Regions from separate parts of the Homo sapiens genome. Here all the other regions are linked to region 1. Evidence: fine-mapped expression QTL. A gene starts in region 1. Each other region holds a variant in brackets. All regions are shown on one strand. Distances are between the middles of the regions. Region 1 holds the start of ANGPT1 (angiopoietin 1). Region 2 has its middle 180 kb from the start of ANGPT1. Region 3 has its middle 130 kb from the start of ANGPT1.

Region 1 (2,770 bases):
AGTGCTTCGCCTGGAAAACAGTAAGGTCTTAATGCATGCCATTATTATTGTTGCACAGGAGTGATACATGACTCAATGAGGAGACACGCAAAAGTTCAAGAGGCTGCAAAAGTGGTTCAAATATTTTATTGCTGTGTTTGGCATAACTTGCTTCCATATCTGTCCAATCAGAAATTTGTTATTTGGTGTGGAAAGGACTGATGAATCTCGGCAAGGTTTCTTTCCCCAAGTAAATCGCATTTGTTCTGGAATTTGTTTTGACCTCTCCTCTAACTTCTCCCTAAATGCCCATCTCTAACCACTACGGACCTTCACCCACTGCCCTGTTCTCCTTCCAAGACATGGGAGATGACAGCTGTGGCTTCTGTTTTCACACCATGACTGCAGTTGTCTAAAAGCCCTCCCAGTTCCTAATGAAAATCCCAACTCATAATTCAGGTTTTCTGCATCTAGTAAAGATCTCAAAGCCGTTCCCTAAATTCTACAATTATTGCCTGTTTATGTTTATGGGTCCCTTTGTTCAAATGTTTATACGCTGCCTGTGGGAAATCATCTTCTGATAATTTTTCTTTCTTCCTTCACAGAAGCACAGAGATGTCTCCTGTACAGCCCATTGCTGGCTGTTAGCACACCTGATATATGCTTGTTCTCACATAGTATGTCTGTGCAGCCACAGGAGGTTTTTATGTGGAACTTCCACACCAGTGTTAAAGACAGCCATAGCCACCAAAGAGATCCTTGTAAAATACAGGATTAGGATATACCACAGGAATTAATAATTCTCAAGCCACTGCTTTAAATTGTAGCCACATTGTTTTTGTAGGGAAGTTGCTCAATTTATATACACAGAACATGAAGGGTTGCATTCTGATCAGGACACCAGTTTCATTTAAGAACCCTATACCAAAAGGTACTTAGATAACCCTCTTTAATATGCACATACTATATTGCTTTGTGCAACATATTGCTTTGAGCAACAAATGATGCTAATTTTCTTGCTAATTTGATCCTCTCTGATTATTTTCTTCAACTCCTAAAAGTCTAAGTGAATACAATGAAAGAATACCATCTGTAAAAACTGTTTTTTAACATATTTTTCCTCAGAGTCAAGAATACATGTTTTTTAAAGACATTTAATAATGATATGGGTTTATCATTCTCTATCAAAAATAATTCCATTGGACATTATGCCAATTTTCTTCTTAGGGTCCCTCGACTAAATAGTAACTTTAAAAACATACTGCTAGTTTGCTATATTTTAGTAGGTCAGCATGCACACCAAAAGTGTATTAAGGTGGACTGCTCTATTTATTGATTTGCCATGAATCTGCTAAAGGCTCAAGGCAATTGTCTGTGGAAAGGGGCGGGAGGGCCATACATGATCGAGGTCATGCGCATCTAGCCAATTTGTAAGACGATCCCGCCGCCCTAAGCCATCAGCAATCCTTAGTATAGGGGCACACTCATGCATTCCTGTCAAGTCATCTTGTGAAAGGCTGCCTGCTTCCAGCTTGGCTTGGATGTGCAACCTTAATAAAACTCACTGAGGTCTGGGAGAAAATAGCAGATCTGCAGCAGATAGGGTAGAGGAAAGGGTCTAGAATATGTACACGCAGCTGACTCAGGCAGGCTCCATGCTGAACGGTCACACAGAGAGGAAACAATAAATCTCAGCTACTATGCAATAAATATCTCAAGTTTTAACGAAGAAAAACATCATTGCAGTGAAATAAAAAATTTTAAAATTTTAGAACAAAGCTAACAAATGGCTAGTTTTCTATGATTCTTCTTCAAACGCTTTCTTTGAGGGGGAAAGAGTCAAACAAACAAGCAGTTTTACCTGAAATAAAGAACTAGTTTTAGAGGTCAGAAGAAAGGAGCAAGTTTTGCGAGAGGCACGGAAGGAGTGTGCTGGCAGTACAATGACAGTTTTCCTTTCCTTTGCTTTCCTCGCTGCCATTCTGACTCACATAGGGTGCAGCAATCAGCGCCGAAGTCCAGAAAACAGTGGGAGAAGATATAACCGGATTCAACATGGGCAATGTGCCTACACTTTCATTCTTCCAGAACACGATGGCAACTGTCGTGAGAGTACGACAGACCAGTACAACACAAACGCTCTGCAGAGAGATGCTCCACACGTGGAACCGGATTTCTCTTCCCAGAAACTTCAACATCTGGAACATGTGATGGAAAATTATACTCAGTGGCTGCAAAAAGTAAGTGATTGCTTTCAGTTTCTAATAGCACGGACCTTTTTCCTTTCTTGCACTGCAGCTAACTTAAAGTTCCTTAGGGGAGCATTTGTGTATTTACCTTTTGCTCCAGGGGGGCAGTGTTTGCAATTGCAAGACGGCTGTCTGGGTTTGGCTTCCTGGGTAAGCCAAGGTTTGGGGGCTTGCCCAAACCTATGAATGTGTGGGGGCACCCCGTTTGTGTGTCTAGCCCTGGCAAATTTTATGACATTTTTGGTTTCTCTTTTCTAAAGTTCAGCATTAAGGTTCTCTCTGTCAAAACACTACCTTAAGAAAGAAAGTATGTACCTCTTAAGCAAGTTGGTGAAAAATAAATAATAATGACAATATTAATTAATAAGATCAAATCGATTTTGCACCAGAAAATTTTGTGCCGCTGGGGTGGCAAATCATCACAAAGTATTTGTTTTTTTAACCTTTATAAAAATTAACATGAAGTGAGAGTAAATATAAAATATGATATTTGGTTGGAGAAATTGTATATTTATGTAAAGGGAACTGTTAGTTTCAGCAAG
Region 2 (2,770 bases), 180 kb before region 1:
CAGTTTTTTCCTAATAAATTTGCAGTTTGGCTAGGTCTCAGTGGGAATGTCCTGTTTCTGCTCTGTGTGATATCACCTCATGTGGCTCAGTGGATCTGAAGAGTCTGATTTTAAGATGGTTCACTCACATGGCCGATAATTCCTACTGGCTGTCACTTTGCAGCTTGGCTAAGGCTGTGGTTCTGAGAGCTTTGATTTCCTTAAAATGGGCTTCTCCATAGGTTGCTTGGGTTTCCTCACAGTATGGTGGCTAGTTTCAACAGCAAGCATTTCAAAAGAACAAAGGGGAAGTGAATTGCATTTTTATAACTTAACTCAGAAGTCAACTTAACATTGTTTCTAGTATTTTGGTTGAGGCAGTAGAAAGGCCAACTTAGATTCAAGAAAAAGGGGCATCGATTCCACATCTTAATAGACACAGCAGGAAGGTTTGAGAAGAAATATAGGCTAGGAGATGTGGTGGCCATCTTAAGACACTACAGTCTACCACCATGTTGGGAACTGATTGGAAGAGGACAATGAAAAGTGAAGAAGGAAGAGCAAAAGTAATTTAAGCAAAAACAATCTTAAATTGCTTTTTAGGATTACATACAATCTCAAATTGTATGCTTACTAGGGTTATTATCCTCCAAAAGTAATACTGTTATTAACTAGGGCTGTGGGGAAATATTGTTTGTATTATATGTTCCTAAACCCTAGGGTGTACTTCATTTCATTTGCTTTGTTCAGCACCTGGATTGTACATTAACAATGGATAATGCTTTGGAAGGGTGATGATAGTTTTCTAAAAGTTTTCAGAGACCTTTAATACTTAGGCTATTCTTACACATTCAACCGATTAAATTTTTTGGCTAAATGTACACATCAACTCAAACACCTGGTAAAGTTAGTAAAAAAAAAAAAATAAAACCGAAAAACAAATATAAAACCAATTACTGAAACCTGATGACTTTGTTTTTAAAAGGAAAAGCCCATGATTTTCTTTTTAAAGAAAATAGGAAGCCAATCATTCCAACTCACTATTATTATTTTAAAAGATAATACAGAGAATTTCCTGACTTAACTCTGATCCATTTCCAATTATAGGCTTCCATGTTTGAGAATACAAAATGGGCCCTGTGGAATCAGCTCTCTGTCTTAAGTAAATTTATTAAATATTTTTTAAAAAGAAATGACCACCAGAGTCCATTTGAAAAGTAAGCTTACTGTGGCAGTCCCAGGGTTAGCTGCAATGAATATAATGTGATGATAATG[A/G]CTATGATGAGTGGTAGCTAAGAAAATGTAGATAGAACAGTGTTCTAGGTTCCTTTTGGCTCATTTATCCCCATTGGCAATCACCCCAAAAGAGGGGCTCACACCCAGCTCTGCCTTGTCCATGTGAGTTCTTGGTTCACAAAGTCTCATACAGCAGAAGAATAAAGGGAAGGAGAATTGAAAAATCCTTTTCGGTGGTTTTGTTGCAAGCCTAAGTTTGTCAAACACTCTAGCTGCATATTTTTCCTAGAATGAAATATTCTCATGGCTGCCTAGATTTGTTGTTTTTGTCAAAGTTCAAATTGTATGAATCATGTAAAAAGGATATAATTAAATGTATAAGAAACTTTAATATTAGGAAAACAGGTGAGTGGCAAAGCACTGTTAACATATTCATGCATTAAGCAAATATTTATTAAATGCTTACAATGTGCAAAACAGTATCAAGTGATATAAGAAGCTTGTTCTGATTTAGATCAAACTTGGATACAAGAGTTGATCTTTCTTGTTGGTCCAGTATTCACTTTCATTCAGTTAAGTTTACAAAGCTGCACATTGCTTACAATTTGACTCATCGACTGGAAGGTTTTTATTATTGCTTTCTCTTTTCCCAGGCTTTTCATTGACTGTCTGAATACACACCATGAAATCAGCACCATTGGCTTCAAAGACATTTATTAAAACGATGCATTTGTAAGAAGAAATTTTATGAGATCTGTGGCTTATGAAGTCCTTGATCTATTTAATCCAGATGATTGGATCCTAATGTTTGCAGCAAAGACAGGCCCTAATGCTTATAGGTAAGATGAGAGAAGTTTTAAACTAATCAATTGCAACAGGGTGCACAGTTCCTTTTCGATGACTATGACCCTCACATTTATTACCTTTGTTTTTTTTTTTTTCTAGGTCCACTCAGCATAAAGTTAAAAGTGCTTACATGCTAGACAGCTCTCTTGGAGGAGTAGCCTGCAAAAACTATATCTTTAAAGGTTTATTTTCTGTGTAGCTATACTTGAGTGAATGTGTGTGTGTGTGTGTGTACATTCAAGATCTGTACATCTTATTCATAAAAATGAACCAATCAATATCTACCAAAGAAAAGTTCAAGAATGCAAATTTTTAAGAGCAAAAATGATAAAAACACAGAAAGAGCTTTTCTTAGGCAATGATCTTATCATTGAAAGACGTTTCAACACAGTAAAATAGATTTTGGCTGAGGAACAAAGACATTTATTAAGTACCTTCTATATCCACGTCAGGCACTGGGTAGTCATTGGAAAATCAAAGATGAATTAAGATTTGGCTCACACCTCTGGGAAGTTGTGGGGGGTAGGGAGGGGTTAAAGAACTTGACTCAGGTGTAAAGAAAAATAATGCACTAGCACATATGCTGTGGTAGTTACCTGCAGGAAGGAGTTGAGGAAGATACTTGAACTGGTGGTTGAAGCATGACTAGGGGTTTTCTAGGCAGAAATGACAGGACATTATGTTCCAGGAAAATAACCACAGGGACAAG
Region 3 (2,770 bases), 130 kb before region 1:
TTCCTTCTGAAAGAGGAAATATATGTATTGTTATTTTCCTTCTGAAAGAGGAACTATATGTATTGTTATTTTCCTTCTGAAAGAGGAATTATATGTATTCAGCAGGACTTTGGGAGCTCGGAGACCCTTATACGTAGGCACCTGTTTTTCCTGAGATGTTAGCAAGTATCCTTGGTGAACGAGGAACGTGCTGCTTTCTAATATACCATAAAAGAGGGTTTGTTTAGATTCTCTTTCAGGAAAAGAAGTTAGAGATTAGACATACTGAGGTTGTCCTAGCTTCGTGGAGAAAAAAAAAGTTTCTTAAAACTGCTTCCTTAAAATATGGCACTGTCCAAATTGAATCATTGTATTACACAAGTGCTATCTAGTTTTCAAATCTAAATGTAAACAGATGGGGGTGACAAATAGATTCAAACATCCTCAAAGTATGAGTACGGAGACTTAACAACCAAATAGAGGAAAGACTGAACCTATTAGTTAACCCTAAAATTAATCCACATTCTTAATTTTTTAAATATTTAGTATTTTTACTGTTTCCATGCATTCTAGGAATTATAAAACAAAAGCCCCAACGTGAAAACAGGGCTCTAGTTCTATTTATGGTTTTTCTCACTCAAAGACAGAAAAGACTGAAAGCATCTATAAGTCCTATTTCTCTAATTCCTGGAGAGTGATAAATATTTAGCCAAACACATGATTACTCATTTGAATGTTTCAAATAGACTGATGTTTTGCCAACATAGAAACCAAATCTAGTTTTGGGTGGTCATAGTTTTACAAGTTAGTCACTCACCAATAAGCATCCATGAAAATTGAGTTTATCATTCATGTACTAATTTATTTATTCATCAACTTATTTAATAAGTATATATTTAACGCCTATTATGTGACAGGCATTGTCCTTGCTGCCTGGATACTGAATAGTCAACAGAATAAATCTGATTCCTGCCCCCCAGGGCAAGAAAACAGCCTGTTGAGGAAAACAGATATGAAACAAAACGAAAGAAATAAAATATTGTCACAGAGGGCTGAGAAATAAAAGAGCAATATATTGATGAATAAAAACATATGCCATCATACGTAGATAAATTTGGAAGCATAAACATCTGTCATCATACACACGTAGATTTAGAAGCATTACCCTCTATTCCTTCTATAAGAAAACACAGATATTTGTTACCTAGAGCAAACATTTTGTAATCTGGCCCTGCAGTGTTATAATTTACTGTTTTGCTGGCCCCCTCATTCTCTCTATAAGGTTCCATGAGTGACTTGGGCACTGG[T/C]CTTCCCTACTTTCCCACATGATCAAGGGAATTCTCATTCTACAACAAGTCCTAAAAAGTCAAATCAAACTCCACTTCGACCAGTCAAGGCTATTGTCTCCTTGACCGACTACTAAGTTTTCATGCTGAATGGTGCATGCATCTCTGCAAATTGTTCTTCTTTATTCACCACTTTATGGCCCACTTTGTCACCTGCTATTATCTGCTCACTTCCCAGATTTTGCTCCTACCAGCTTTCTTGCTAATCAGGTTTTTTTTTTTTTCCCTGTTTCTAAACATACATCTCAATGTCTGGTGTGATCTTCACACATTTCCCAGTCACCTTCCTCAGCTAAACCTGTCTACTTGGCAGACAAGCACTTTGGAACTTCATATCTACTCTTTCTCATGACACTGACATATTCTTTTTTTGGCATACAAATGTCAACAGGTAGGATCAAATGGAAAAGAGGTGTGAAAGGTTAATTCCCCAATATCAGCATCAACTATAGGAAATGTATTTGCAGAGTAACAGCTAAGCGGAACTCCTTGAATGAACAGTGCTCTGTGACAACTATTGAATGAGAACATTTCTGTCACAATGAAGACAAAGGTTGTTTCAATGTCATGGGTCACTGGGTGAAGAGCAGAGAAAGCCAGTTCTTCATGCTTATACAAGAGCCCTTCAAACATGGGAAGCCAATGTTACAGACGAGGGTTTAGCCAAAGAATGAACAGTTGTTGCCAAAAATCAAAGGATTTTTTTTGAAACCCAATTTTTGATCTTAGTTAAATCCCTGTTTGGGATACAGGACCAATATCAGTCTGTCATCATCATGCACAAAGGAAACTATAAATTATAAACGCATCTACGTAGAAAACAAATAGAATTGTTATGTACATTATTAGGGAAATCATATTATCAGTGAGTTTGCTTCCAGAATGGAGGCTGTGTAAATAAATGGATTTTACAGGATGAATCTTTATTAAAAAAAATATTGTAGATCACCTGAGGTCAGGAGTTTGAGACCAGCCTGGCCAACATGGCAAAAACCCGTTTCTACTAAAAATACAAAAAATTAGCCAGGAGTGGTGGCGTGTGTGCCTGTTGTCCCAGCTACTCGGGAAGCTGAGGCAGCAGAATCACTTGAACCTGGGAGGTGGAGGTCACAGTGAGCTGAGATGGTGCCACTGCACTCCAGCCTGGGTGACAGAGGGAGACTTAGTCTCAAAAAGATAATTGTAAAATTGTAGGGGAGAAGAGATTTTTTTTTTCTCATCCATTCATTGTTCAATTCATGACTGAGACCCTGGTAATAAAAAATTAGATTAACAAGAGAAAAGCACACAAATCTATGTAGTATAAGTTTTACTTGACATAGAAGCCTTCAGAGATGAAGACCCCTGCCAAAAAAAAAAAAAAAAAAAAAAAAAAACAGGGAAAATTGTGCAGTTTTGTGGACAATTGTGCAGAAGTATGATTAGAGGACAAAAAGTTCTGACCC

What was found.
Region 2: its variant is fine-mapped to the expression of ANGPT1 in whole blood (INTERVAL, PIP above 0.99).
Region 3: its variant is fine-mapped to the expression of ANGPT1 in whole blood (INTERVAL, PIP above 0.99).

What each region holds. Positions count from the first base shown.
Region 1 is chr8:107,496,711-107,499,480 of GRCh38, reverse strand. It overlaps ANGPT1 (angiopoietin 1), which reads left to right and starts at 1,563. Exons shown (of 9, transcript NM_001146.5): 1 at 1,563-2,219. The coding sequence starts at 1,923.
Region 2 is chr8:107,672,851-107,675,620 of GRCh38, reverse strand. No RefSeq gene overlaps it. Among named protein-coding and RNA genes, the nearest start is that of ANGPT1, 180 kb to the right of the region's middle. The variant A/G (reference allele first, on the strand shown) is at 1,255.
Region 3 is chr8:107,629,847-107,632,616 of GRCh38, reverse strand. No RefSeq gene overlaps it. Among named protein-coding and RNA genes, the nearest start is that of ANGPT1, 130 kb to the right of the region's middle. The variant T/C (reference allele first, on the strand shown) is at 1,287.